7 linked regions of the Homo sapiens genome follow. The protein of the gene in region 1 purifies or fractionates together with the protein of each later gene. This does not show direct contact. Each region holds a gene or a part of one and is shown on either strand. Other genes may lie near its edges.

Region 1 (4,216 bases):
GGTCCATCCTCGCTGGCAGCCATGCTGGGCTTTCCTTTTGTACGGCTGAGGCCTATTCCACTGTCGGCATGGACTACATCTTCTTTGTTTGTTTTTTTGAGACAGAGTTTCGCTCTTGTTGCCCAGGCTGGAGTGCAATGGCACAATCTCGGCTCACCACAAACTCCGCCTCCTGGGTTCAAACGATTCTCCTGCCTCAGCCCCCCCGAGTAGCTGGGATTACAAGCATGCACCACCATGCCCCGCTAATTTTGTATTTTTAGTAGAGATGAGGTTTCTCCATGTTAGTCAGGCTGGTCTCGAACTCCCAACCTCAGGTGATCCGCCCACCTCAGCCTCCCAAAGTGCTGGGATTATAGGCGGGACCACATCTTCTTGATCCCTTCATCGGCTGACGGCCCCTCGGGCTGCTTCCTAGTATGGCTGTCGTCATGCTGCTGTGAACATGGGTGTACAAACCTCTCTGGGCCCTGCCTTCAGTTCTTCAGGGTCCATACCATTAGGAGGAGCGGCCGGATCAGGTGGTGGTTCTAATCTTTGAGGAGCTGGTACACTGCTCTCCCATAAAGGCTGCGCCATTTGACCCTCCCACCAACAGCGCACAAGGGGTCCATTTTGGTAAGGACCACCTTAATGGGAGCGAAGAGGTTGAAGAGCTTTTTTTAACCAAAATATCCACCAGGTGACAACATGAACAAGTCCTTTGTTCTCATAAAGCAGCAGTGTGTGCCCTCTTGCTAGAAGGTGGTGAAGTCTTTCAGAGACCAGGAAATGGTTTGGCTGTGAGATTCTTCCAACTGCTTAATTTATAACCAGACTCAGAGAACCTGGCGGAGGATGGGGTAAGGATGGATGGTGCCGGCAGCCCCGGGCGGTGCTGAGACTTTCAGTGACTGAGCCCGGCCACTGGGGAAGGGTCCTGAGGAGGGGGCAGACCACGGGGCCACCTGTGGCTGCCGCAGGGGGAGGGGTCCTCTGCAGACGGAAGGCCATTAGTTCCCTGCAGTGAGGTGGAATGCAGGAGTTGGCTCCCTGCCCTCCTCTTTAAGATTTGAAACTTCTACAAGCCTGGAGGATGTGGCCTCTCAGGGAAGCCGCTTGGAAGGAAAGAGCTCCCAGAGAGATGAGAGAGAGAGGAAGGGAAAAAGTCAAGGTTTTTTCCTTCCAAATATTTTATTTAAATATTAAATTAAAAAACATACATCAACTAATCATTTGGCATACATTTCTCATGTTAACATAAGAGATAAAATAATTCAGTTATGGTAAAAAAAAAAACTATGTACATCTCAATCAGATCACGTAGTGTCTTTAAATAGGCTATTGCATTGCCGTCTGTATTACAGCACTGTCAAGAAATCTACAAAACACACATCACACACTCTTAAAAAAACAAGTAAAACACGCCTTTAACGTCCTCCAAAAGAGGTTCCACAGCAATAAGAAAAAACAAAAACCACCGTGAAAGTAAAGTGCTTGTCATTGCTTCAAAGAGGAAACACACAATGGTTTCTGAGGCCTTTGATCTATGGCATTAGAACAGAAATCATTTTAAAAAGGGGAAGGGGTTTTGTGTTGGAATCAGTTGTGCTACCTCTGTAAAAATGAAGGCAAGGGCCTGGCTGCCCCAAGATGGTCTGGATTCTCTCCCATCCCAAAAACTTCTTTATGAGCGAACAGGAGACTTTGGTGTTTTCTCTGCGGCAAGGCACCTGGTCTGCCCTCCGGACAGCCTTTCGCCCAGTCTTTGAAACAGCCACAGAGCAGCAGCAGCAGCAGCAGCAGGAATGGGGGCAGCCAGCTTCCCTGCGGCCCGGCACAGGCACAGCCCCCGGTGGGCACCAGCAGGCCAGGGATGCAGCCTCCTGCACTGGGCCCGCCTCCCTACCCTCAAGTAACTGGGTCAATCTTTGGCTTTTAAAAATACCCGCCTTTCCCCTTTCTCAATGCCTCTGTTTAACACTGCAGGGTTTAAGAAGCCGAAGTAGCTGAAGGCACCTGGGCTGGGTTTGGGGGCGGGGACTGGACTCAGGGAGCAGCATTGCCTTCGTTGCCTTCCAGAGGCTTCTGGCTGGTGGAGCCCCACGGAGTCCACCTGCTAAAGGTGCGCCCAGACCTGCCAGGTAAGGGCCGCCCCTTCCTGCCGCCTCCACCCCAGTGCTGAGGGAGCGAAGGCCCTGGGGCCCCTTCCTCAATGCACACCTGTGCTGACAGGGACGCTTCTTAACAACAGGAGCGAGGGAAGCTGAAACCTGGAACACAAACGTATAGTACAAAATGTAACAAATAAGTAGTGTCTACCTGTCTCCCATGTAGATACATATACAGGATTTGCTTTAAAAAAAAAACAAAAACTTAAAAACACTGACCTAAACCTCTCACTTTACCTTCCTTGAACAAAACCCAAAAAGCCTAGGTGGGGGGTGGGGAGGGGGGTCCCGGCCCAGGGCAGGCACCGCCCTGAGCCATGAGCCATGAGCCATGAGCCTGTCTCCCAGCTGCCCAGCCCTACAGTCAGCCTCCAATATTGCACAACTTCACCCAAGTCAGGTGTTCTTGTTGGACCCCATCATGAAATGCATAAACGTCAGCAGCAGCGGAAACGGGAGGTGCAGCAGGAAGAAGCTTCTGGGCTTCCGCAAGGGCACGCAGGGGCTCAGGGCCAAGTGACCCTCAGGACGGAGTCCCCAGCACTTTGAAGTCACCTCTGCCCTCTCTGAGGTTCTTCCTGCCGTTCCTCCGCAGAGTCCTGGAAAACTAATCCTTGAGCAGTTTATGAAACTTCTCAACTAAAATAAGAAAAAAAAGTCTTCCAGGTTTTGATTTCAGGGGAGAGAATTCCTAGAATCTGTAGATGATCTTTGCCTGGGCTGCTTTAAAACTGATACATGAAGCAGAAAGTTCACAGTTTTCCTTAAAGCAGAAATCAGGAAGTGGAGAGCGTTGACTAAAGAAATGGATAGTAATCAATGCACGCGCACACACACACACACACACACACACACAAGCGGACAACAATGCGCCCGCTCGTTTCCGTAGACGTCCGAGGTAATCATCTCAACCACGACGAACCCAGAGAGAGGGGCCGAGATCCCCACACCACGGCACTGCACGTGTTCCCTCCACCCCGCTCCCCTCCTGCCCCCGCCCCCAGACACGCCCCTCAATTATCTTTCTTCCTAAAGTTTCCAGTCCCTACTCAAAGTTGAGGTCACTCAGTGCAAGAAAAAAATAAAACAAAAATAAACTAAAAAGCCAAAACACCTAACGTATTGCTTATTTCGCTTCTAGAAAGTTCTTGGCTTTGAGGCCAGATGTCTTCACCTCCTCTGAAGTTATTGCTGTAAGAGTCAGTGTCCGTGCCAGGATGCAGGGCTGCCCTCACTGCACCAGGACAAACGTGCCTAGGGAGCAGGGCATCAGGTCCTCCATCTCACAGTCCCCCTGCAGCAGCCCCAGGGGCTCACAACCTGGGGCCAGCCTGGCCAGGCGTGGTGGGGGCACAGCGGGGAGGGCGGTGGGGCCGGTGCCAATGTGCAGGTGTGTGTCCAGGAGCTGCGCCGCTGAGGCCACCGGGGACGCGCCGGTCTGCAGGAGTGGGGGCGGCAGCAGCGGGAGCCCCGACGTGAGGAGGGTGCTGGGGAGCGGGGCAGCCCCAGGGCCATCACAGGGGGCGATCACAAACGGGGCAGGGGCCGGCTGGGGGGCCTGGGAGCAGCCGGGTGCAGCGGCCGGGTGGTGCTGTAACTGGAGCAGCCTGTGGGAACAGAGGACAGGTGGTCACTGCGCCGGCTCGCAGGGTTCTCGGGTTTCCGAGTGCCCGTGTGGCAGGGCCCGCCCGAGGAGCTGCCAGCCGCGGCTGCCGAGGGCAGGTGCGTGGCTGATCCCTGACCGCGCCCCACCTTTCATTCTCCACCCGGTTTCTCAGCAGCTCAGAGATGCGGCCACAAGGCGCCCTCGCTCCCCGCCACCCTCACCCACCCAGGGACTTTAAAGGACACGCCCGCCTGCTGCACCCCCATGGCTCAGCACCTAGGACCTACGCCCCACACATCTCCCTGGCTGGGAGCGGGGGTGTGCACTGGGCTACAGAGAGGAGGGAACCACTTAGCAGATGAGGTTCCTCGAGGAGATAACCTGCCGTGTGCCCACCCGGGGTCCCAGGGCGGGGGCAGGCCCTACCTCTGCTGCTCTAGCACCTCCTCCAGCAGGCTCC
Region 2 (3,257 bases), on another chromosome or scaffold:
TCCCTGAGCCACATGTTTCACACAAGTGTAGAAAATGCCAGGGATCCACCACAAGATGGAGATGGTCAGCACAAACCGATTCTGTTCCTCTTTAAAGTGTATATTAGCCACTTAGCAATCTCTATATTCTTTCAAGTAACCAAGCTGTTGACTTTCTTACTACTTGCAGTAGCCTGTCCCCAACTTTTCCATCCAGTGCTTAACCTAAAAAACTCCTTAACTCTGCCTTGACCTGAGGAAGACCATGCTAACTGGTGTTATTTTGTATGTACCCTGTGCTTAATTCTATAACAGTAAACCCCATACGCAGGTGGGAGGGAGGAACACCGGTGCCTCGGTCACTCTGGGGGCAGTTTAGATGCTGTGAAATTAAACCTGTTCTAAGTGTACTTGTTTGAATTAATTGTATTGTAATATTATTTGTTGAATGTAGTAATTAGGTATTTATGAATATATTGCTGTAATTTCTGACAACATCCAAAAAATAAAATCTTCCTAAATTATGTTAAGAGGAAAATCTTTTTTATGATATAAAACAAAGCCAAACAAAGAAAAGCTCAATAACTATACATCTCCGCAGACGGAGCTGCCTCCACTGGCTCAGGCTCTAAGAGGAGGGCATTAGGACCCCTTGCCCTCCACAATAACAAGTGGTTTCATTCTAAAAGATCCCCAGATGAAAGCAGGAGGATTCCAAGGAAGGCTGAGATGAAAGAACAAGTCCTATGAGCTGAACCAAGTCTGAACAGCACCTTAAATTATGGAGACCTCATCTTTTGGTCCCAGTCTTCCAGGTCTGACCCTTCAGTGTCCAAATAACCACCAAAACCTGCCTGGCGGGGACACGTGGGCAGCAACATGGAGTGATAGTGTGCAGCATGCTAGACACTGGAGGGCAGATGCTGGGTGATAAGTCTTTAGGCTCAGCCTGTCACACATGCGCATTCTCAGAGCTCCCCAGACAGCACCCCACTGCTTTTGGCCCACTGGTGTCCAGCCAAAAATAGGCTGGCCAGGCATGGCGGCTCATGCTTGCAATCCCAGTGCTTTGGGAGGCTGTGGTGGGAGAACTGTGTGAACCCAGGAGTTCGAGGCTGCAGTGAGCTATAATCACGCCACTCTACTGCAGCCTGGATGACAGAACGAGACCCTGTCTAAAAAAAAAGTTAAAATTTTTTTTGTTTGAGACAGAGTCTTGCTCTCGTTGCCCAGGCAGGAGTACAGTGGTGCAATCTTGGCTCACTACAACCTCCGCCTCTCGGGTTCAAGCGATTCTCCTGCCTCAGCCTCCCGAGTAGCTGCGACTATAGGCGTGTGCCACCACACCTGGCAAATTTTTTTTTTTTTGTATTTTTAATAGAGACGGGGTTTCACCATGTTAGCCAGGATAGTCTCAATCTCCTGGCCTTGTGATCCACCTGCCTTGGCCTCCCAAAGTGCTGGGATTACATGCATGAGCCAAGCCAATGTGCCCGGCCAAAAATTAAAGTTTTTTTTAAAGCTGATTACAGAACCTTCTATCCATTGCATGATGCTGGACGATCATTTCACCTCTCAAGGTAATGTAATTTCTGTAAAGGTCCTAACATTTCCAAAATGCTACGAATAAAGTAATTTTCTCTTAGGAAAAAAATAATTTCCCCTGAGCCCACTGTTACCTACAACAAAGAATCCTTCCCCAAATCCATCAAGAGCAGCACTGAAAGTGACTTTTCTTCTAGCATTGTCACTCATGCTCAATACATTGTCACTCATGCTCAATACATTGGATTCGTTTTTTTCCTGACTCTCCTCTTGATAAGCAACCCATTAAACCTGAGCTAGAAGTAGCCAAGAGAAGGAGACACCCCAGGTGTTGGTCTGCAGTTTCCACTTAACTGCCGTGTGCCTCAGTTTCGTTGACTGAGTCATCTCAGCCACAGGCTCAGTCCTTTTACTTGGTAGTTACGCAGCACAAAAACCTAGAGAGTCAGAGCTGAGTTGGGTCCATTTTTATTGTGGATCAGGGCTTAGAGGATAAGCACCGGTCAGCATTGTTGGCTGCACCATCTGCCATCCTTCTCTGTGAGCCACCTCTGTGAGAGAGTCTAAATTCAGCCCAAGAAATCAGGATCAAGAAGGGGTAAAAAGCCGTGGACCACATGGCCACTCCTGCTGTATCTACACCTACCAGTCACTGAACACCTGCCCAAGTGTGATGGCTTCCATGCAGGAGACCCAAGTGGCTCTGCTAGGGAGAATGACTTATTTACCTAAGGCTTTTTTATTTCTCAAAAGTGGGGGGAAAAAGGGCTGGTTTCTAGAAACAGATGTGGAATTGAAGAATGTCCCAGGGAGCTAAGTTTTAAGGACTAATCACAAACTTGTTTCTCCAACAACATCCTGAATCCATTCCTTGCACCATCACACATTTTTCATGCATCAGAAGTGTTTCTAGAGCTCCAGAACCACGAGTACCTCATCACGTCCTGAGCGCTCACATCCCCCAGCAAGCCGCCTGCACCAGGCCTTTCTCTAGAAGTCCTGAGACTGAGTACTCTCCAGAGGCTGGAGGTTCGTGCGGAGTTTGTACATGTGGTTGAGCGCTTGTGTGAGGAAAGTCCCGCTGGTGTTGATCTCCATCAAGGTCAAGTTATCCAGCTAAAGCAAGAAAACAGACCAAGTTGGCCAAGGAGTTTTTGATTTTGAGAAAAAGGTAAACTCTACTGAATAAAAATAAGAAACCAATGAACTGTTGAAAAGCACAGCTAGTAATGCCTGCCTGTAATAGCCTCAGCAGACGGGAGCCATGTGAAATTATGCGGCATCAAGGCCACCAGCACCCAGGCAAGGCGGCACCTACCTTGGCATGTGCCTCCTGCTGTCTCACAAAGCTGTCAGCAGACACTCGGAGTTTGGCTATACGAGTGTCCCACATATCCTTGACCAGGGTCCGGATTTCGTCTGCCTTCGGGATGTTGTCTGAAGCACTAAAGGAGCAAGGGCTAAAGTCAGTCGGGGAACACTTGATAACCTGAGGCAATGCTGGATAGAGTGGCTCTTTTCAGGCAAAATACCGTGGCTATTCCAGACTCAGAAAGTCTGTTTTGCTTTATTTTCAACTTTAGGGTGTAAAGATTTGTAGCAGTTAAGCTTGGTGCGGCAGTGATCCACATGGAGTTTCTTTTGCTCACATTAACTATCCCATGGCAGGCTGCTGAACAGGACTGCTGTTTACCTAAGAAAATTAGTAGAGAATCAGCTCTAAGTCAGAAGCC
Region 3 (4,567 bases), on another chromosome or scaffold:
ACTTTTATTGCCCAGGCTGGAGTGCAATGGTGTGATCTTGGCTCACTGCAGCCTCCCCTGCCCCGCCCCGGATTCAAGTGATTCTTGTGCCTCAGCCTCCCGAGTAGGTGGGATTACAGGTGCGGGCCACCACACCCAGCTAATTTTGTGTTTTTAGTAGAGATGGGGTTTCACCATGTTGGTCAGGCTGGTCTCGAACTCCTGACCTCATGTGATGCACCCACCTTGGCCTCCCAAAGTGCTGGGATTACAGGTGTGAGTCACTGTGCCCGGTCTATTCCCATTTTTCTTTCTTTTTTTTTTTTTTGAGACCAAGTCTCACTCTGTGGCCCAGGCTGGAGTGCAGTGGCACGATCTCTGCTCACTGCAATCTTCGCCTCCCAGGCTCAAGCGATTCTCCCAAGTCCCAGACTCCTAAGCAGCCATTACACCTGGCTAATTTTTTGTATTTTTAGTAGAGACGGGGTTTCGCCATGTTGGCCAGGCTGGTCTCAAACTCCTGGCCTCAAGTGATCTGCCCGCTTCGGCCTCCCAAAGTGCTGGAATTACAGGCGTGAGCCACCGTGCCTGGCCTTTTTTTCCATAATTAAAAAAACTTTTTTGAAAATAGTGACAGACTCTTGCTGTGTTGCCCAGGCTGGTCTTAAACTCCTGGCCTCAAGTGATCCTCCTGCCTTGGCCTCCCGAAGTGCTGGGATTATAGGCATGAGCTACCATGCCCAGCCCCATTTTTCAAATGAGAAAACAAAAGTCAGGCAAGGTTAAGCAATTTCTCCCAGGCCTTACAAACATTTCATAGTATCAGAGGTGGCATCTGAACCGAGACAGCCTGGCTGCAGAGTCCAAGTTCTTTCCCATGGTGTGATCTGAGCTATGATCATGCTGCATATCTCAGGGATGCTTCTCTACTCAACAAACATCTACTGAGCATCTGCTGGGCCAGGCACTGTGCTGGGCTCTGGGGACATAGCAGTGAAAAGGACAGAGATGACATTCTGATGGCAGAGACAGACAAACACATTATAAAGTAAGGTCCTTTTGGGCTGGTCACGGTGGCTCAAGCCTGTAATCCCAGCACTTGGGGAGGCCGAGGCCGGTGGATCACCTGAGGTCGGGAGTTCGAGATCAGCCTGACCAACATGGAGAAACCCCGTCTCTACTAAAACTACAAAAAATTAGCCGGGTGTCGTGACGTGTGCCTGTAATCCCAGCTACTCAGGAGGCTGAGGTAGGAAAATCGCTTGAACCTGGGAGGCAGAGGTTGCAGTGAACCAACATTGCACCATTGCACTCCAGCCTGGGAAACAGAGGGACACTCCATCTCAAAAAAAAAGTGAGGTCTTGAGGTCTTTTTGGACTAAGTGTTAGGAGTTAATACAACCACAATAGAGAGTGATTTTAATGACGGTAACACAAGGGACTCACTGTGCCAAGCAGTATTTTTATTTTTTATTTTTATTTGTTTATTTTTTGAGACGGGGTTTTGCTCTTGTTGCCCAGGCTGGAGTGCAATGGTGTGATCTCGGCTCACTGCAACCTCTGCCTCCCGGGTTCAAGTGATTCTCCTGCCTCAGCCTCCGGAGTAGCTGGGATTACAGGCATGCACCACCACGCCTGGCTAATTTTTTGTATTTTTAGTAGAGTCGGGATTTCTCCATGTTGGTCAGGCTGGTCTTGAACTCCCAACCTCAGGTGATTTGCCGCCTCGGCCTCCCAAAGTGTTGGGATTACAGGTGTGAGCCACTGCGCCCGACATTCTTTATAATTTTTAACTCATTTCATCCTTATGTCCTCCCATCAGAGTGCATACTGTTATTTAGCCCATTTTATGACAAAGAAAGTGGCTGGCACACGCTTTCTTGAGTCTTCTGCTTTGGGGGTATCAAAACCTATAACTGGGCCAGAGGCAATGATCAGGCACAGAGAGGGTGAGTAACTTGCCCGCAGTCACACAGGTGGCGGAGTGTTGCTGGCAGAGGGAACAGCAAGTGCAAAGATAGGTGTAGTCACCAGAGACAGTGGGTATGAGGTTGTTTGAGGCTGAGTTATCCAGACATGAGTGGGTCCCCAGCAGGGGCAGCAGAGACAGCGGGGCAGGTGTGCTGGCTGGATAGACTGCTGCGTGTTTGTGTTCTAGGAGGCCAACGGTCCTGCTGATGGCTACGCAGCCATTGCCCAGGCTGACAGGCTGACCCAGGAGCCTGAGAGCATCCGCAAGTGGCGAGAGGAGCAGAGGAAACGGCTGCAAGAGCTGGGTGAGGGCGGGGCTGAGGCGGGGTTGGCTGGGTGGGCTGTGTGTGGGGTGGAGTGTGGGGAGTCCTCGGAGTGCATGGGATGCTGCATGCCTTAATGTGGGACTGGGCCGGTGCGGCCCTGTGGCTGCCTGGCAGGGGCCAGGGGAGGAGCGCGGCCGGGCCTGTGCATCCCAGCTGGAAAGCAGCCACTCATTCTCTTGTGGGGTCCTAGATGCTGCATCTAAGGTCACGGAACAGGAATGGCGGGAGAAGGCCAAGAAGGACCTGGAGGAGTGGAACCAGCGCCAGAGTGAACAAGTAGAGAAGAACAAGATCAACAACCGGTGAGAGGGCTGTAGGGACATGAGGGGGCCATGGGGACATGAGGGGGGCTGTGGGGACATGAGGGGGCCGTGGGGACATGAGGGGGCCATGGGGACATGAAGGGGTGGGGACATGAGGGAGCTGTGGGGACATGAGGGGGCCGTGGGGACATGAGACGGGCTGTGGGGACATGAGGGAGCTGTGGGGACATGAGAGGGGCTGTGGGGACATGAGAGGGAGCTGTGGGGACATGAGAGGGAGCTGTGGGGACATGAGAGGGGCTGTGGGGACATGAGAGGGGCTATGGGGACATGAGAGGGGCTGTGGGGACATGACTGAACACTGCCCAGTGCTCCCTGCCTTTGAGGCTCTGTCCTTCACGGTACAAGGTCTTCCAGGAAGGGAAAGGCCTGTTCTGGGAAGCTACCCTTCTGTCTAGGGAACTGCTGCATGCCAGGCTCTGGGGTAGGCACGGAGGAGATGGAGATAAGGAGGACCCAGCCTTATGTCCTCAAAGGGCGCAGAGGAGAAAAACACACATGTTCAACTAAGCTCAAATACAGTAGGGCCCTCTGCACGAAGGCCATGGAAGCAAGGAAACAGGTCAGGGAGAGACCTCTGTGTCTTGGGACTTGGGCTTTGGAAGATGACTAGGAGGAAAAAAGGGAAAAAAGGGCAGGAGGTAGGGGGGCATTCTAGACCTGGGTACGAAGAAAAAAATGTGATGTATTAGGCAACAGGGGGCCAGGGAGCGGTGGGAGAGAAGGCAGGAACCTGTGGACTCACACTGTAAGGGCCTTGGCTGATGAGTTGGGCAGTGACATGGGCAGTGGGGAGCCACTGAAGGTGTTTGAACAGGAGTAACATGATCAGGGATGAATTTTAGAGAAGGTGCTGGGGCCAGGGTGAAGGTCCCCATTCTCCTGTTTGGGGCTGTGGGTCGTTGCTGAGCCTTCCAGAACTATGCTTCCTAACATTTCTCCCACTGGAGGTACTAATGCTGTCTCTCTCTCTCTCTCTAACCTTCTGCCTGCCTGTCTGTCTTGCCATCTGCCTTCCCCCACCTAACCCCTTCCCTCAACCTTTCCCTCAAGGATCGCTGACAAAGCATTCTACCAGCAGCCAGATGCTGATATCATCGGCTACGTGTACGTGTCTGTTTTGCTTCTCTGTTGGGGGAGCTAGAGAGGGAATGGCCACCACAGTTTCTTGAGTTTCCTGCTTGTGGGATATAAATGAGTGTGGCTGGGCTCGGAGCAATGGTCAGAACAGGAGGCAAATGCCCTGGTGGGTGCAGGCAGCAACCACCTCCCTCCCTCCAGTGAAGTGGAGGCTGCTTGGCTAAATCAGAGCCTTGCAGGATAAAGGCAGAGAAAGGAATGTGCTTGCCACTTATTCCCATGTGGGAGGGGCAAATGGCAGAGCACCCCAACTCCCTCCCTCTGTGATGTCTCTTGGTGGGTGTGTGGGGTGAAGGGTTTTTTGTTTTTTGAGATGGAGTTTCGCTCTTGCTGCTCAGGATGGAGTGCAGTGCTGCGATCTCGGCTCACTGCGACCTCCACCTCCTGGGTTCAAGCGATTCTCCTGCCTCAGCCTCCCGAGTAGCTGAGATTATAGGCACATGCAACCGTGCCCGGCTAACTTTTGTATTTTTAGTAGAGACGGGGTTTCACCATGTCGGCCAGGCTGGTCTCGAACTCCTGACCTCAGGTGATCCACCCACCTCGGCCTCCCAAAGTGCTGGGATTACAGGCATGAGCCACCACACCCAGCTGAAGGGGTCTTTTATTCAACAAAACAGACACTGAGCATGGGATGCTGGAGGCATGTAAAGGACAAGAGCTGCTCCTTTGTGACATCCATCTCTTCCTCCTGCCCCAGTGCACTGACTTTGGCCATCAGCCCCTGCCCAGACCACCACAGGCCCCCTCACATGTTTCAGGTTTGGGGTCTACTTGGTGTGATGAGTAATCAAGACCAGGGTTGGCAAACAGGTTATATCTCGTGCC
Region 4 (4,567 bases), on another chromosome or scaffold:
CTTTTTTTTGAGACAGAGTCTCACTCTGTCATGCAGGCTTGAGTGCAGTGGTGTGATCTCAGCTTACTGCAACCTCCGCCTCCCGGGTTCAAGTGATTCTCCTGCCTCAGCCTCCCTAGTAGCTGGGATTACAAGTGCCCACCACCACACCCAGCTAATTTTTGTATTTTCAGTAGAGGGGGGATTTCACCATGTTGGCCAGGCTGGTCTTGAACTCCTAACTTCAGGCAATCCCCCACCTCGGCCTCCCAAAGTGCTGGATTACAGGCATGAGCCACCACGCCTGGCTGAAAGCTTGAGTTCTTAACCAATGGGTAATATTGCCTCTCCTTAAATCTTTGATTATACTAAGCTTTTAGTCACACTGACTCTTGCTATTTATTCACTCAGCAAAATACTATTAAGTTTGTGGAAATTAACTTGTTCTATATATTTGCTCAATTTTCAGTAAATCAGATTAACCACATTTAGAACTCTATGTGCTACATCTGAACTGTAAGCTACTTACCACTACCGTCTATCATTTTCTTAAGAAACTAAAAATTGGCCAGGCACGGTGGCTCATGCCTGTAATCCCAGCACTTTGGGAGGCCGAGGTGGGTGGATCTCTTGAGGTCAGGAGTTCGAGACCAGCCTGGCCAACACGGTGAAACACCGTCTCTACTAAAAATACAAAAATAAGCCAGGCTTGGTGGTGCGTGCCTGTAGTCCCAGCTACTTCGGAGGTGGAAGTTGCAGTGAGTTGAGATTGTGCCACTGTACTGCAGCCTGGGCAACACAGTGAGACTCCATCTCAAAAAAAAAAAAAAAACAAACAAACAAAAACTAAAATATCAAGACTCAAGTAACCACCAAAAAGCTTTTACGAAGAAAATGTTTATTTTAAAACATGATTTCTCTATTCTGCTTGTAAGTTCAAAAGTTTTGGTGGCCCAAGTTCAAATTCTTTCAAAAACTACATAGTTATTATATATACAGATTCGTTTAATATAAATCACCGTAGCTGTAGGATATTTCTAAAAGGCTAATAAAAAGGTATTTAAAATGTTGTTGCTTCAGTTCCTTTACATCTTTACTGAAACATTAAGCATTCTGAAGGCATTTTTCATTCAACTTAGAGGGCATAAGATAATTTAAAAGATTACCTAAGAAAAAGCAATAAGCCCAGTAATTTTTGTATTATAATCTATGGAAAGCAAATACATTCAAACCGCAAGTGTGAACAAATTGTTAACTTTGGCTGGAATTTTGAAGCTGGTATTTCAAAGAAAACATCATGATTCAATACTATGAAGGCCTGACCACAAGCCAAAGACTCTGAGGTTCTGTCCCCTTTACCAAGTCAATTCACCTATTTTCGCTTTCCATTTTCTCACCTACAAAATAGAGAAAACTAAACTAAGATGCCATAAAAAGGCCTTGCTAGCTATTTAATTTTCATTTTCATATTAGTACTTTCATGTTGGATTAAAATAATTAACATTGTAGGCTTGTTGCTCATATCCCTGAAATGTTTTTCAGGAATTAATGTTTAAAAGCTAAAATTAATAAAGACTATATTACCTTAAGTTCAGCAACTTGTGATGAAATATGCCACATAAGGCTTTCACTTAGAAACTTCATACCATATGGGCCTAGTAGTTCTGATAATGACCTCATTTCTGAAAGAAAACATACTTAATTTTATACTTCCGACAGAGCAAATACTTTAAGAAAATGAACATTAACACAATACAACATCTCATTATAAAAACTAATGTAAAATCCTGATAAAAGTCTCTAGAGTGAAAGAGAGAATACAAAATGCAAAAGTAATTCTAAGATACAATATGCAGTTACGCATATAATTGAATGAAATAGTCACAACAGAATCAAAAGTCTAAAGAATCAAGACACTAGCAAAAGAATTAAGTGTTCTTCATTCTCTAAACTGTGGTATAGTACTATTCACCTGATATGTCAGAATATTCCTCTGCATTGAATGTTAATTCATTTTCTGTAGGTAAGTTCACAAACGCTTTCATTGCAGGAAAATATGCTATATGGCCATTGCTGACTTGTCGTAACAAAGTTTCCAAATACCTAAGGAGAAACGTAAACTTATAACCGGAAGAAACTGCTTAATTCAGAATGTATCATGATATACATTCCTGCATATAATTTTAAGTTGACTGATAATATGAATAAGTACTTATTCACAAAAAAATTAATTTTCCTAAGTACTTCATTACAAATTTTCCGCTACTACAAATTTCTAAATGCATTCCTTACCAATTTGTGTATAGACTTGTAATGGTTGGCTCTCCATGACTGTCTAAATGTTGTGTTTGTTGAAGAAGCACATTATTAAATACTCTTGTAATATCAATCTGCACATAGTTTTCTATTGACTGGAGTACGGTCATGTATGCTCTTACACTTGTTAGAAGTTCTGAAGGTTTTGCAATTTCCTGTGTGGCTTGATTATACATAGTCATCCCAACAATTGACCTGGGAAGAAGGGATAGAAGAATAAGAAAAGCCTCTGACTTTTCCATTCATGTAAAATAAACCACTCAACCTACTGTTATCTAATATTAAACAAGCAATAAAATTAACTTTAAAAATAATTTATTACAAAGCTGTAAAATTACTGTCATTATCTTCCCAGGAAACAGCGTAAAAAAAGAATGAAGGCCGGGCATGGTGGTTCACGCCTATTGTAATCCCAGCATTTTGGGAGGACGAGGCGGGCAGATGACTTGAAGTCAGGAGTTCGAGACCATCCTGGCCAACATGGTGAATCCTTGTCTCCACTAAAAATACAAAAATTAGCTGGGCCTGGCACATGCCTGTAATCCTGGCTACTTGGGAGGTTGAGACAGGAGAATCGCTTGAACCCAGCAGGCAGAGGTTGCAGTGAGCTGAGATTGCACCACTGCACTCCAGCCTGGGCAACAGAGTGAGACTGTCTTAAAAAAAAAAGAAAAAAGAAAACTTAAAAACTACAACGAAATGTGAATAAAATGATTAAAAACATTCTAAGTATACCAGTAACAAAAGTGATTTAAGTATAAAGAGGGTTTTACAAATTGCTTTAACATGGTAAGTTGTTTGTAGCAAGGACAGTGAACTATTTAGTCTACAGCTTGAATTTATTTGACACTGTTAGGTGCCAGTAGTTTTTGAGGCTTTATATAAATTACCTACAATCCTCACATTTAATAAACACCTACAATGTACTTATCACTATATCTCCCAGAGGAAAAAAATAAAGCTCAGGACTCACATAAATTGATAAGGTTTTGTTGGGAAGTGGTTATGACTAGGATTTGACCGCAGATCTGCCTGACTTAGTGCTGCCTCTAAACAAACTGTATGACAGTCAAACAAAATAAGGCAACAAACAACTTTATTTTCTTTAATCACTCATAGCATATAAAACAGTTCTGTTTATATCTCAAGAAACTGTATACGACTAAAAAGGAAACACAAATTTTGAAAATACTTCCCTAAATGATCTTATCCTACACTGACCACCCCTATTTCACTTTCTTTAAAACTCCCTGAGCATTAGATCTGTAAAGATCTTAGACTTGTATTTGTAAGGATGAATCCTTAAAAGACAACCGACAAATCCCATCACTAGAAACAGGCCAAGAAGAGCCAACGCAAGATGAAAACTGCTATCCTAGTGTATAATCCCTAAGTCCTAAGACTGTGCTCAGTTGATTGACAAAAACCAACCCACTAATATTCACAAGCTATCTGGCTGGCCAATATGGCGAAACCCCGTCTCTACTAAAAATACAAAAATTAACCAGGCACAGTGGCACACGCCTGTAGTCCCAGCTACTCGGGAGGCTGAGGCAGGAGAATTGCTTGAACTTGGGAGATGGAGGTTGCAGTGAGCTGAGATTGTGCCACTGCACTCCAGCCTGGACGAAAGAACAAAACTCCGTCTCAAAATAAATAAATAAATAAATTAAATAAAATAAAAAATCTTTCCAAGGTAAACAAGCTGTTCCCCTTGCCTTGATCCTAATCACTAAGTAGATGTTTGGTTAAAAAAAAAACTGCTTCTCTGTGGATTAACAAAGCAGACTGTTTACAAGGAAAACAAGGGAGCTGTACACTGAACTCTCCCTTCCACCCACCAATGTCCCACCTCTAACCCACTTGAGAATAATAAACACCACAAGGCACAATGCCCCTTTGGTCTAAGTTCTAGGGCATTCTGGGTTTTACTGTCAGGATGCCTGACTTACTAAGGAGAACAAAAGACAGTTCATCACCAGACTCTTCTCAAGTCAACTGATAATTTAACACTCAACTTAGTGCCACTTTATATACTGTCATATTCTGTTCTCTAATTCTTTTAGTCATCTCACCAGCTACAGTTCTATCTTTATCTCATTATTACCTAGAGTACTTAACACATTGTTAAGCATATAGTGCAAATACAAACACCACCTGTTAATGACTACAGAAACTTTGAAAACCTTTTGGCAAAATTTTGTTTTATAAATTGCTTCAAGGCTTTGAAGAAAAAAATTGTCAAATAAATAAAAATTTTCATGAATAAATA
Region 5 (3,303 bases), on another chromosome or scaffold:
AAGACCAGCCTGGCCAACATGGTGAAACTCTGACTCTATTAAAAACACAAAAATTAGCCAGGCATGGTGGCGGGCGGCCTGTAATCCCAGCTACTCGGGAGGCTGAGGCAGGAGAATTGCTTGAACCCGGGAGGCAGAGGTTGCAGTGAGCCTAGATCGTGCCACTGCACTCCAGCCTGGGCAACAGAGCAAGACTCTCAAAAGAAAAATAAAAAAAAAATGAGCATTTTAATAGCTACCTTTATTGACTGTGTTCTCAGTGCCTGGTGTTAGGTGAACTTTGCATGTATATTATCTCATTTAATTATCCTTTTGTTGTTGTTGTTTTTTGTTTTTTGACACAGGGTCTCTGTTGCCAAGGCTGGAGTGCAGCGGCATGATCATAGTTCATTGCAGCCTCAACCTCCTGGACTCAAGTATTCCTCCTGCCTCAGCCTCCTGAGTAGCTAGGACTACAAGGTGTGCACCACCATGCAAGGCTAATTTTTTTTTTTTTTTTTTTTTTTTTTTTAGTAGAGACGAGGTTTCACTATGTTGCTCAGGCTGATCTTAAACTCCTGAGCTCAAGCATTCCACCCATCTCAGCCTCCTAAAGTTCTGGGATTATAGGAGTGAGCCACTGCGCCCAGCCTATCTCATTTAACTCTCACGGGAGTCTAATTAAGCAGGTGTCTCCATTTCACAGAGTGAAAACTGAGGAAGAGACAGCATTCAAGTAATTTGCTCAAAGTCATACAGCAAAGTGATTGAAATGCATTTCCTTCTCTACCTGGTGAACTCCTACTTATCCTTTAAACTCCTGCACAAATGTCCCCTCATTGAGAAGCCTTTCCTGACTCCTTCAGGCACAGCCTGTGGACTTGGTGTGGTGCACCCCATACCCCCTTCTGTTACAGCACTGATCTATTTGTGTTATGTGTTCACACAGCAACGGGGGTGACTTCTGTGTGCCGGGCACAATACAGGAGCTTAGAAAATCACAGTGAACAAATATCTGAATCACTGCCCTCACGGAATTTGTGGGGAAGGGTGACATAGACCATTATCAAGTAAACACAAATGAGATAATTTCAGGTATAATAGGTGCTATTAAAAAAAAAAACAAACAAACAAAAAACAGAGCATCGGGACTGGATGACCAAAAGTGGACTCCTATAGCCTGGGCAATTCAGGAAGGCCTCCCGGAGGAGGTGACTTTTGAGTGGAGACCTGAATGACAGGAATGTAAGACTGGCCTGTCTCCCTGACCTAACTAGCAGCTCCTTGAGGGTAGTGCCTGGTCTGATTCATCTTTGAGGCCTGGCATAAGACGTGGCTCGATAAACATTGTGGAGTGACTAAAGGGACGGGTGAGTTGCCTTTAATAATGAATCGAGTTTTCAAGTTTCCACCGACCTCGCTTCTGGTCTTTGGATGACAAACCCAGCTGATACGCCTGTCTGACATTTCCTGCGTGTGCTAATGGGGGCAGAATGGGAAAGAGGCCACGGAAGGGAGCTGTGTGCTCAGACCTTGTACATCAACCTCCTGTGGGCTCTGCAGGGTGGGGGACCTTGTGATCACCCCTACGTATGTCCCCAGCACCCAGCACTGGGCCTGGCACATAATAGATGCTCCATAAATTGGTAACTGAAAGGACAAACAAACAAACAAAAACCCCGTGCTTAATGGGAAATTTCTGTTGTGCCTATATTCAGCTAGCTTATGTTACTGCTTCAAAGTTCAGGATAAGCTGAGACACTCAAACTTCTTCTTTTTTTGAGATGGAGTTTTGCTCTTTTGTCCAGGCTGGATGGAGTGCAATGGTGCAATCTTGGCTCACTGCAACCTCTGCCCCCCGGGTTCAAGTGATTCTTCTGCCTCAGCCTCCCAAGTAGATGGGATTATAGGTGCCTGCCACCATGCCTGGCTAGTTTTTGTATTTTCAGTAGAGATGGGATTTCACCATTTTGGCCAGACTGGTCTCGAACACCTGACCTCAGATGATCTGCTTTCCTCGGCCTCCCAAAGTGCTAGGATTACAGGCGTGAGCCACCACACCCAGCGGACACTGAAGCTTCTATTAGCCTTACCTGGATTCTGTGTATTAACTCCCCTTCCCTCCCCCAATTTCAGGGAGAATCAAACAATTCCTCCTCCCAAGTTTTCAGGACGAAAATCTCACAGCCAATTAATAACAGACAAACCAAAGATTTTCCCCTAAATGTCAGAGGGAGGTTTCTTGGCACAAGCTGGGCAGTTGAGGTGGCAAGGGTTTCCCAATCTTCACTACCCCCTCGGCCCTCTGGTCTTAGAGGCTGGGATAGAAGCAAGGTGAGGTCCCTTGAGTTCAGTGGCCTCATGAAGGCAGAGAAGGTGCTAATGACTCAGGGCCAGCCTAGCTCGGAGGAACTGGTGTTGGGTGGAACCAGAAGTGGGAAACAGTGGGAGATGAGAAGGAAGTGGTTAAAAGGTGTTTCCTGGGACTTGGAACTAGGGTGAGGAAAATGATTCTTCCATCATCCCTAAGGGTTGGGGATGGAAGGTTGGGACTGGGGGCTACCCTGTGCACTTCTTCCCTGGACACACGCTTTCACCGGGACGTGGTCAGATCACGACAACAGGTAACCTTTAGTCAGAACTCACCACCCACTGTGTTAAGCCTTACATGACAATCACCATGAAGATTTACATACACATGTTATATCATAGTCTCCTCACAACATGTCTAAGAGGTAGGCACGTCATTGTTCCCATTTTGCAGATGAGGAAACTGAGGTTCAGAGAGGGCACTTGGCTTGCCCAAAGTCACACAGCAGGGAGTGGCAGAGGAAGTCAGGTTGGGTGACCCCAGTAACTGCTCTCAGAGGCTGGGTGATGACCGGCTTCCTGGCTTCTCTGGAATAAACCTTTGCCACCACTTCCTGCATTTCAGCTTCAGTACAGGCAGAGAATGGGGATAGGTGGGGGAATGAGGTGAGAGGGGAGATGTTTAGAGGTGTGGAGGGCGGCAGAGGTTTGAACAGTGCAGACAAGGGGAGAGTTCAGCCGACTGGGGAGGAAGAGGATGGACGATGGAGCCTCTGGGCATCTGGATCAGCAGGAGCATAACATCTGGATCAGCTGGAGCGTAGCATCTGGATCAGTTGGAGCGTATGACTTTATTGATCCAGGACATGTATTTGCAGATCTGGGTGTAGACAGCTGGATGCTGGGCAGAGCCACAGGGGTAAACACCCCACGAGAGGATGCCTTGGAGGGTCTCGTCACAGACCAGGGGGCCTCCAGAGTCACTCTGGGGGTGGCAGGAAGGAGAGATCAAAT
Region 6 (4,567 bases), on another chromosome or scaffold:
TGTATTTTTAGTAGAGACGGGGTTTCACCGTGTTATCCAGGATGGTCTCGATCTCCTGACCTCAAGATCCGCCCGTCTCAGCCTCCCAAAGTGCTGGGATTACAGGCGTGAGCAATTTTTAAGCATTTATAATTTCTCGTCTTTTAAGTTTTCTAAGGTTCCATGTGGTTGTAAGTCATGCTAAATTTATGTAACATGAGTCCAATATAACAGACTATACAAAGAATCAATCAACAGTTACACAAAATATGTACATGGCATTATAGAAATTATTTCCCTAACTTTAGATTATTTCTAAGATATATCTCTACACTTTCAAAAAGATAAACACGGGTAAATAAATGTAAGAAATAATTATGTAATAAAGTCTTATTCATAAGGTGTGTCTGAGAAGTCCATTAACTGCTATCAAGGTTAAGACAACTTTTTCAAGGGGCCAAATACACAGCAGCAGGAAATGTACTGGATAAAATGCCTCAGAATACAGCTTAAGCTAAATAAAATTCCATTAGCAACCTTCACTGAGTTAATGATTATAAGCTAATCACTATGAACCAAAAATTTGTGAATAAAACGAAAACTTACAACATGGTTAAGTTTATAGGAGTTATACTCTAATTTAGGTTGCAGACCACATAACAAGACAAAGACGATCTTGAAAACATATATAAAAATGTGCACAAATTGAAGCAAATTCAAAAAACAAAGCGTCAAAAGGACACAGGGAAAAAGAGAAATGAGCATGTAGTACAGAGAATTAACCAGAGAAGGTTGTTGGAAGAAGCATAGCTTTGAGTGACTGTAAATGGAAATACACTACACTAAAAACTGGAAAAGCCAAATTCTAATTAAGTAGAACAATCCAAGGGCATGTTTGCGTAATCAGTAACCAGTTTGTCTGAAGGTTTTAATAAGTCAGGTTTCTGTGGGAGAAAGTGTTTTGATACGTTGTTTTCTCAAGAAATATTAATACACAGAAACCAGCAATCTAGGCCCCTCAAAGAAAAAGTCATTCTGCATAGTTGTATGGATTCCTAGGGATATAACTGTTTGTACCAATAAACTATTTTTAGCCATGTGGATTGAAATAATTATATCTTCTGGCCAGGCGCAGTGGCTCACGCCTGTAATCCCAGCATTTGGGGAGGCTAAGGTAGATGGATCACTTGAGGTCAGGAGTTCGAGACCAGCCTGGCCAACATGGTGAAACCCTGCCTCTACTAAAAATACAAAAATGAGCCAGGCATGTTGGCACACGCCCGTAATCCTAGCTACTCAAGTGGCTGAGGCAGGAAAATCACTTGAATCCAGGAGGCGGAAGTTGCAGTCACCTGAGATCACACCACTGCTCTCCTACCTGGGCAACAAAGCAAGACACTGTCTCAAAAAAGAAAGAATTCTCTCTTCTTCCAATTGTGCTAAAGGCTTAAAGATGTAGTAGAAAGCAGCAACATGCAGAGTGCATGCATTCCTTCATCTTTATTTCCCATCTCTCTTTCCCAGGAACTGATGAATTAGACTTAGCAAAGAAACATGAAAAGCACTCCTCCCAGGCCTCCTTACCGCAAGACTCACTAAAACATCTTTTTCCTAGCTCTTGAGGTTTTTGGCTATACCTGCTGAGGGAAGATTTAGTGTCACCAAGAACTCTATGGTCTGTCCTTCATGGCCTTTGTAGTCAGGCTCCACCTCTAAATACTCTCTCAATGAGCCTACCCTGGGTTCTCTCTCTCTGTACCCAATTCTGCTGTGGACTTGAAAACTGATACAGAATTATTATAATATCTTAGGATTACTTATCAAGATCACCCAGGCTTTTTTTTTTTTTAAGGTACACTTTTTTTGTTTGTTTGTTTTGAGACGGAGTCTTACTCGTGCAGTCTCCGCTCACTGCAACCTCCACTTCCTGGTTTTAAGCAATTCTCTGCCTCAGCCTCCCAAGTAGCTGGGACTACAGGCGCCCACCACCACACCCGACTAATTTTTTGTATTTTTAGTAGAGATGGGGTTTCACCATCTTGGCCAGGCTGGTCTTGAACTCCTGACGTCGTGATCCACCCGCCTCGGCCTCCCAAAGTGCTGGGATTACAGGCATAAGCCACCGCGCCCGGCCTAAATGTAACATTTCTAAGTCATGCTCCTAGAGATTCCAATCTGGGAGAGATGAATCCATGTGTGTTCCTGCTCCCTGTGTTATTACAGCATATAGTGGGAGTTGAGAAGTACTGCTGTAAAGAAAGAGTAAATGCAGCCTGAGAGGTTCTCCCCTAAGTAAAATACATGGAACCATAAAAGTTCTCATATTTACTTCCTATTTCCTATTTCTCAGCTATATTAGTGAAGTCAGAGGGACTGAGAAAGAAAGAAACAGTTTATAGGGGGCATTAGATATGGTACCAGTATCAACTCCACAGCAGGAGTAAGTAATCCATATATGGCAAGCATACTTCTTTGACAAGTAAACACATAAGAGAGTAGTAAAATAAAAATAAAGTTTTCACACACAGGACACTGTTGACATTTACAATGAAAGGCATAAAGACTCATCTGATTTGACACAGTAGGCAAAAAAGTGGCATTGCACCTTTTTAAGCAAAAGAATTATGACACTTCTATAGCTGCATGCAATGTGTAATATGATCATGATCTGAAGGAGAATGACCCATCAGAAAAATGATATAATTTTTCAAAGATAAAATAACAAAGGCAGAGAAGGTAGTGGTTAGCTGTAGAAATAAAGACTAAAGTTTGTAATTGACAATAATTTCTTATAAACTGACCACACTCCCTACACAGAAGATGAGTGAGAAATTTTCTGAAACAGCTTGCAGAGTACTGTAACAAGACATCTTTAAAGGCAAAACCAGAATAATATAAGAATTATTTCCCTCCCTCCAGATGAAACCTTATTAAACAAAAACATAATCATAAAAGGTCAAAATTCAAATGTACATAAATTCAGAACATGATTTGCTACCTGAAACAGTCACAGTTGACCCTGGGTCAATAATTCCACTGTTGGGCCTCACACAGTACCGGCGAGGTGCTGTAGTCTTCACTTTGAAACACACTTTTCTATCCGATGGATTTCGCAATTTAAGATTTGTAGTGACTACATCTGTGAAGGGGCCTGTAAAGTTTAAAAATTAAAGAGAAAACAAAATTTAATTGGATTCTCAACAACGAAGGATTCAAAACTGAAAATATATAACCTCAATTTTAATTAAGTGCTGACATTTGTAGGCATAAATATCCCAAATGGCTACTAACACTGCCTTTCTCGAGGTGGCAGACTTAAAAACAAGTCATATTTTCTTCTTCATTCCCTGTATTTCACAAAATTTCTACCATAAACATGTATGATTTCTATCAAAAAAGTACTATGAAACTTTGGATCTATGAACTTTACAACTGTATTTTTACAGTATGTTGTTAATACGTTGCTGAAAATAACAGAATTTCCCAGTTGTCTGCAAACCAGTGTCAATCTTCAAGTTCATTTTACTAGGCCAACTGCAAAAATCTCTACATCTGAAGACCCTACACCCTATGACATCAGTGCTTTTGCTTCACCTCAATTTTGTTTGTTCATTCATTCAATCCATTCATTCATTCACATATTTGTTAAGTGTTTATTATGCCATATGCTCTAGATACAAAGTTTTTAAGCTTTGGTTCTGCACCCAAACAACATAAAATTACAAAACAAAGAACCCAAAAGGCTGATCCATTTTGCTGAAGAAAAGCCTGAAGAAAAATTATGCAGATTAATTTAGACAACAAAATAAATACCTGTTAATTTGGAGGAAGAACATAAAAACATGTTCCAGTTGGGAACAATAACCACAGTTCTAAGTATTCCAAAAGTAATTTTAAATCGTTCTAAAAACAATTCGTTTAAAGTTATGTATTTTTTAAAAAAGCTAGAAGGCTGGAATCAAAGACAACTATTATAAAGGCTCTCTTTTCTTTATTTCAATCTTAAGAATAAGCATGTCTTTTAAAATTTTACAAAGTCATTAAAAGACACTTATTTCAAGCCCTAAGAAGCAAAATGATTTTATGCTATGCTTAAAGTTTGTTAGTAGTAAAATATTTTCTAATAAATAAAAATTTGGAACTAGGATGAGAGGAAGGAGATAAAAATGAGTGAAAATTAGAAGCAAGCATAGAAAGGCAGAGAACCAGTTATAGAAAAGAAAGCATTTTAATATAACTAACAGGTCTGCATTTTTTTTTTAAAAAAAAAGCATACATATGACAAAGTATGATCTTCTGAACTGCTTGTTTCATTATATGGTCAAACTAATCATTCCATTTACAACATACAACCCTTGCTGCTTCTTCAACCCCAAGAGCTTCCATTATCTTTTTGAAAAGCATCTGATTAAAAACTCCACCATAAAACTAGTATGAGAGTAAAGACGAAAACTCCAATGTGTCCATTTCACTACATGAATCCACAAAATGGCTGGCTGGAGATACGTTTTGAACTGATAAAACTAGAAGTCTTAAAGGCAAATTCCATTTCTTAACATTCTCAAACCCATAATTACTACAAACGCTT
Region 7 (5,335 bases), on another chromosome or scaffold:
CCTGCTCCTCCAAATCCAGAGGCCAAGCCTAAAAATGCCCCTGCAAAGAAGGGAGAGAAGGTACCCAAAGGGAAAAAGGGAAAAGCTGATGCTGGCAAGGAGGGGAATAACTCTGCAGAAAATAGAGATGCCAAAACAGGGAAGGCACAGAAAGCTGAAGGTGCTGCAGATGCCAAGTGTAGTGTGTGCATTTTTGATAACTGTGTACTTCTGGTGACTGTACAGTTTGAAAAACTATTTTTTATCAAGTTTTATAAAAATGCAGAATTTTGTTTTACTTTTCTTTTTAAGCTATGTTGTTAGCACCCAGAACACTTCATTGTTGTTTTTAGGGGAAGGGGCATATGTCACTAATAGAATGTCTCCAAAGCTGGATCGATGTGGGGAAAACACCTTTCCCTTCTAGTTTTGAGAGAGTTCCTCTTGGCTCCCAGGAGGAGGGATTCTCTGACTTTGACACACATGGCCACCTTGGCAGAAAAGCCTTGTGGTATGGAAAATAAATTCATTTTTATGTCCTCTTCTCCCTTTCCATCTTTCAGCATAGATTTAACTCCTTTAAGCCAGACATCTGTTGGGACCTGGCCCTCAATCATTGGTTACCAGTATGTCAGGCACTCTGGACTTTCCAGTGATGCCACTGAGATGGCACCTGTCAAAAGAGCAGTGGTTCTGTTTCTAGATCGTGGATCTTCAGATAAATTCTACCATTTTCATTTCACTTCCTGAAAGTCAGGGTTGGCTTGTGAAAAGTTTAAACCACATGCTAAATGTGAAATGTCAACTCTCACTCTAAACTCTCCCTGTTCAGAGCATCAGATGAAGACTTCATTGAGTTTTATAGTGGCTTTCTGATTTTTGGTAGTCCTTTGAACAAGGGAGTTTGAAGTTTGCTGCATACTCTTAACAATTGTCTGCCCATATCCTGCCTGAAATACCATGAATGTTTATGGAAAGTATCTTTAATAAAGCTGGATGCAGTTTGGCTTGGAAAAAAAAAAAGCAAAACAAGGACCTTAACTACTGACAGCCAGAATAAAAAGAAAAGTGTATTGCATGCACATAACTTAAAAGAGGCTGGGAATAAATATGCTTAGGAAGATGAGACTATTTCTTTTTTAATTCTAAAATTAGGTATTCAACCAAACACTTCTAAAAGGAAAGGCTTTTTAAATATTTTTCTTAGCTACTCACTTTTAGCTGCAATGTGGGCTGTTCTCCAACCTTCTCACAATACAAACACATTTCTGGATTCTGGATTCCCAAATAAATGGGATCCCCTCTGCCTTGCTCAAGAGCCTCTGGATACTTGCATGTGATAACAGCAACAGTGACTGTAAAGATAAGAGGAGAGATGGTATCAGTTTCCTTTTGAAGTCAGAAAGATTATTTGATTTAGCAGGGCAGTATCCTCAAGTGGATCTGGAAGAGAGCTGAAGAGTGTAATCCCAACTAGACCCACCAAATGGCCAACCCCCATATTCATTCATTCATTCATTCATTCATACCATGTGCCAATCACTGCCCTAGTAAATGAGCAAACACAGAGAGCTAAGCAGACAACAGAGTATGCTCTTGAGATTCTCACGCCTCTGCTTGAGCACATGGAGATGGGGAGCTCCTACATCAAGCAGCCCCTCTGATTCTTGGAGAGCTTGGTCCCTTTTGCAAGTTTTTCCCAATGTGATGCTGAAACCTGCCTTTCTGTGGTATTCACCCATTTAGTCATTTTAGGACACCCTGAAGTCATGCAGAACAAGCTACTAGTCTTCCATAAGACAGGGCTTCAGATGACTGACAGCAGCTTTCCTATTCCCTTGGAGGCTCCTCCACCATCTCTGGCTTCTTCATCTTAGTGGAACCCAAAGTTCTCCCTGACTTCTCTTCCCAATTAGGTGTGAAATTCTCCCCACTCCTGGTGGGCCCCATTGTAAAGTCACACTTTTACAAAAGGCTGATGCCAGCTTCCCAGCCACAGCAGTGCAAACAGTGGGGAAGGCACAGGGTGACCACTCACCTGGGGTCACACTGTCACTTCGTGGAACTGCCACAAGGTTCTGACCCTGAAGGGTCCACACTTGCTGATTCAAATCATTAATAGTCCCAGTAATAGGTTTACACACTGATTTTGGGATAGAGAAAAAAATGAAGAAATATTATAATCAAGGCTGCTTTACTAGACCCAGGAGAAAAGTATCTAACCCAGGCCATTTTGTAAGGAAGGTGTGGGGTTTGCATCCCCAAACTGACAGCACTCACATCACCCATCAGCCTAGCCTTTCTTTCTAGTGAAGTTGTGAGCTCTGGTGAGGAAGGCAAGGGCTACCAAGGGAAGTCACTGGTTTAAGAGGGCAAACTATCAAGACAGAGGGCAATGAGCAGTCTCACAGAACCTGTGTGCCAAGGCCCAGCTACCCTCTTTTGTGCCTACTCTGTGCTTGGCCCCGGTGCTGGGGACTGGAGCTGGATCAGTGACTAAGCAATAGCTCCCACCCTCCAGAAGCCCAGGGCCCAGTGGTAGGTGGGCAGCACCAGGTGGGAAGGGCAGTGTACAGAGAGGAGCAGAGAAGGCTGGGGCTTCCACAGGAGATAGCGTGAGTGCAGAGGGCCTAAGCCTCCAGAGCCCCATCCCAACAGCATTTGATTCACTTGATTGATAGACGGCCCTTCCTCCACCATCAGCGTCTCCTGGAGTGCCTCTCATAGTGTGGTTGTCTCAGCACCTGTGAAAGCAGACATAGAACAGATGAACCACAAGAGATGTTTCCAAGACCTTCCAGGACACTAGCTCCACAGGCCCTCATTCTAGACAGGGAGCTGGGAAACCTGGCCTGACACGAAGCTCTGGGCAGAAGTTCTGAGCCACATCTGGGACGAAACTTGAAGGAAGCATCAGCAAAGGGAGAACAGGTAGAATTTTCCTCCACCTGGAGATCCAGATAGTATGGTAGTGTCTCCCCTAGGAGTTCGAAGGCCAGGCATAAAATTTGACCTTAAATAACCCACAGGCACCTGATGCCCTGACTCCTCTTCTCTGAAGCCTCCACCCCTTCATCGGCATTGTTTTTGCCTAGGAGCAGGGGAGGGTCCCATGCCAGGGCCACTCTGCCAGGATCCCAGCAACTCCCCAGTAAGAAGCAGCCACACATAGGACAAAGCACAGAGCCAGCCTGATGTGGCCCTTCCCTTCATTAAGCCCAAAGCACAGATGAGAGGAAAGGCTCCAGAGGGAGGGAGAAGAGGTTTTCCAGCTATTGACTATACCTGGCAAGAAAGGGTCTTTATCTACAGTCCAGGGGACTGAATCGTGGCTCCAGCAGCTTCCAAGGTCAGTGATGGGTTCTAATGGAGCCTGGATCATTTATCTGGATGAGCAGAGAAGGAGGCTCCAGCTTCCTGGGTGGGGCATGAGAAACGTATGACATGAAAGAAAACCAGCTCCTCCTACCAGAAGATCCTGTGAGGCTCGGAGGAAGAAATCACAGAATTAGCACAAGTATCACCTGTCCGGGCTCGCTGAGAAATAAGTGTTGAGCCAATCCGCACAAAATCAACCACAAGGAAATGAGGTTGATGACAGATCCTAGGTTTCTCATAAAGGGGAAACTAAGGGAATTTCCCAGAGTTCAGCTCTCCTGTCATGTCATTCTAGAGCTAGAACTGGAAATGCCAGGCACTCTCATGTCAGGGACTCCATCTCCTGGGACTGGGAGCCTTGCCCTCTGCAGTCAGGCTAAAGGCATCCTGTAAGAGCAAAATTAGCCACACGTCTCAGGCAAGGTCCCTGTGGCATTTCTCAACTACCCCACCTAAGGCCACACCTGAATGGAAAGCCAGGCAGTAGAGCTCCCCTACCTAACACTCTTTCAGCTCCATCCACATGGGGAGCCACAGGGACTATGCAGACTGGTCTTTTAACTGAGGCAATCCTAGTTTCAGGTACCCTCAAAATGCAGTGGACTCCAGAACTGCCTAAGGAAGTAAAGAGGTGGGCAGCGATTTCTCCCAAATCTGAGCCCCAGATGCCAGCTTATCCCCCACCCTCTGCCCTAGGTTCCTGATCAGTGGTAATAGTTATTTTTATATCTTGTTTATACACCCCATCCTATCTGCTGTAGCCAAGCCTAAAAATTTACTGAGGTATAAGTTAACTACTAGAGTGAAGTGAGTTTTAGGAGACAGACTTGAAGCACTAACAGCTTCAGGTTTACCCATCTATAAGGAAGAAAAGCACAAAGAATGAGACAGAACCTTCCAGATAAGCTCATCCATGAGCCCCTCTTCCCAGCCCTGCAAAGAGTCTCCTGACTCAACGTCTCTTACTTTTCACCCTAATCTCCTTTCTGGCCTTGGAAGAACACAGTCCTTTCCTGCCATGGCCCCAATTCTATCACTTTTGGCTTCCAGTGTTTCTGTGACCCTAGGAAAGAGTGTGGTAATGCCAGGTGCACTTTTGTTCAAAGTCAACCTGAGCCAGTGCCACCTCACTTGAGTCTCCATTGCCCTGTTAAAAATCCCCTCCATTACACATCAGTCAACATAACTCCTTTCTTGGGATGTTCACCACAAAACAGCATCTAAAATTCCCATCATTTGACCCCCCAAATCCCTTAAGCCTGAATTTCCAACTGGGATCCCTCTGAAAGCAGAATCCATGCTAGGAATTGCAAACAAAGGGAATTGAATAAAAGGAACTAGATACACGTGTGTTGGAAAGCCAAAGAAGATTAAGGGATTGCTGTGGTATCTCAGATAGTAACAACTACAGGAAGGAAACAAAAGGGAACAAAAGAACCTAGGTCTCAAAGGAGCGCTTTTGTAGGACTTATCCCCAGATATGAGTCGGAGGTGAGGCGTTCTCTGCCAAATTGATGCTCAGACCTCTGAAAAGAGAGTACAGTCTGGTCAATGCTTGGAGCATGAAGGTGGAGGGGAGGGGTCAAGAAGAGGATGCTCAGAGGACTCACAGGACACAGCTCTAACAGCTGAATTTTCTTTGGTTCAAAAGCCTGTGGGTACAGCTAGAACTTCCCACGCCCAGATGAAGGTTGCAAAAACTATAAAAGAGGGTGACATGTGTCCTCTTCAGCCTCCGCCCTCATTCCACTTGGTCCTGACCCTTCAATAGATTCCAAGCACTCAGAGAATCCAGCCCTTCCTAGAATTCCCAGCACTCAGCATCCATCCTGAAGTCCCTAGTTTAACTGTTAGTGTGAATAAGTATCAGAGAAATTGGAGGGAGTAGGAGTGATGATGATAAAAGGGGAGAACTGAATCACTGGGGTTGATCAGTAAAGAGCAGAGATCACATCTACTGAAGAAATGGCCCCGAACG

The links.
Region 2: the proteins of SIK1 (region 1) and GINS2 purify together in Homo sapiens (affinity purification with mass spectrometry, with the first as the bait; 2 studies listed by BioGRID). This does not show direct contact.
Region 3: the proteins of SIK1 (region 1) and CLTB purify together in Homo sapiens (affinity purification with mass spectrometry, with the first as the bait; one large-scale study listed by BioGRID). This does not show direct contact.
Region 4: the proteins of SIK1 (region 1) and NCKAP1 purify together in Homo sapiens (affinity purification with mass spectrometry, with the first as the bait; one large-scale study listed by BioGRID). This does not show direct contact.
Region 5: the proteins of SIK1 (region 1) and KLK10 purify together in Homo sapiens (affinity purification with mass spectrometry, with the first as the bait; one large-scale study listed by BioGRID). This does not show direct contact.
Region 6: the proteins of SIK1 (region 1) and VAPA purify together in Homo sapiens (affinity purification with mass spectrometry, with the first as the bait; one large-scale study listed by BioGRID). This does not show direct contact.
Region 7: the proteins of SIK1 (region 1) and IL36G purify together in Homo sapiens (affinity purification with mass spectrometry, with the first as the bait; one large-scale study listed by BioGRID). This does not show direct contact.

The regions. Positions count from the first base shown.
Region 1 is NC_000021.9:43,413,361-43,417,576, forward strand, and holds the end of SIK1 (serine/threonine-protein kinase SIK1), read right to left. Parts: coding exon 4,183-4,216; intron 3,758-4,182; coding exon 3,382-3,757; 3' UTR 1,123-3,381; downstream 1-1,122. UniProt on the Homo sapiens protein: Serine/threonine-protein kinase involved in various processes such as cell cycle regulation, gluconeogenesis and lipogenesis regulation, muscle growth and differentiation and tumor suppression. Phosphorylates HDAC4, HDAC5, PPME1, SREBF1, CRTC1/TORC1.
Region 2 is NC_000016.10:85,675,698-85,678,954, forward strand, and holds the end of GINS2 (DNA replication complex GINS protein PSF2), read right to left. Parts: intron 2,970-3,257; coding exon 2,843-2,969; intron 2,641-2,842; coding exon 2,515-2,640; 3' UTR 501-2,514; downstream 1-500. UniProt on the Homo sapiens protein: Required for correct functioning of the GINS complex, a complex that plays an essential role in the initiation of DNA replication, and progression of DNA replication forks.
Region 3 is NC_000005.10:176,395,618-176,400,184, reverse strand, and holds part of CLTB (clathrin light chain B), read left to right. Parts: intron 1-2,137; coding exon 2,138-2,255; intron 2,256-2,466; coding exon 2,467-2,578; intron 2,579-3,652; coding exon 3,653-3,706; intron 3,707-4,567. UniProt on the Homo sapiens protein: Clathrin is the major protein of the polyhedral coat of coated pits and vesicles.
Region 4 is NC_000002.12:182,950,842-182,955,408, forward strand, and holds part of NCKAP1 (nck-associated protein 1), read right to left. Parts: intron 2,491-4,567; coding exon 2,272-2,490; intron 2,083-2,271; coding exon 1,952-2,082; intron 1,662-1,951; coding exon 1,564-1,661; intron 1-1,563. UniProt on the Homo sapiens protein: Part of the WAVE complex that regulates lamellipodia formation. The WAVE complex regulates actin filament reorganization via its interaction with the Arp2/3 complex. Actin remodeling activity is regulated by RAC1.
Region 5 is NC_000019.10:51,011,679-51,014,981, forward strand, and holds the end of KLK10 (kallikrein-10 preproprotein), read right to left. Parts: intron 3,275-3,303; coding exon 3,122-3,274; 3' UTR 1,061-3,121; downstream 1-1,060. UniProt on the Homo sapiens protein: Has a tumor-suppressor role for NES1 in breast and prostate cancer.
Region 6 is NC_000018.10:9,930,373-9,934,939, reverse strand, and holds part of VAPA (vesicle-associated membrane protein-associated protein A), read right to left. Parts: intron 3,131-4,567; coding exon 2,978-3,130; intron 1-2,977. UniProt on the Homo sapiens protein: Endoplasmic reticulum (ER)-anchored protein that mediates the formation of contact sites between the ER and endosomes via interaction with FFAT motif-containing proteins such as STARD3 or WDR44.
Region 7 is NC_000002.12:112,976,008-112,981,342, reverse strand, and holds the start of IL36G (interleukin-36 gamma), read right to left. Parts: upstream 3,338-5,335; 5' UTR 3,265-3,337; intron 2,724-3,264; 5' UTR 2,705-2,723; coding exon 2,650-2,704; intron 2,123-2,649; coding exon 2,018-2,122; intron 1,335-2,017; coding exon 1,195-1,334; intron 377-1,194; exon of another isoform or gene 1-376. UniProt on the Homo sapiens protein: Cytokine that binds to and signals through the IL1RL2/IL-36R receptor which in turn activates NF-kappa-B and MAPK signaling pathways in target cells.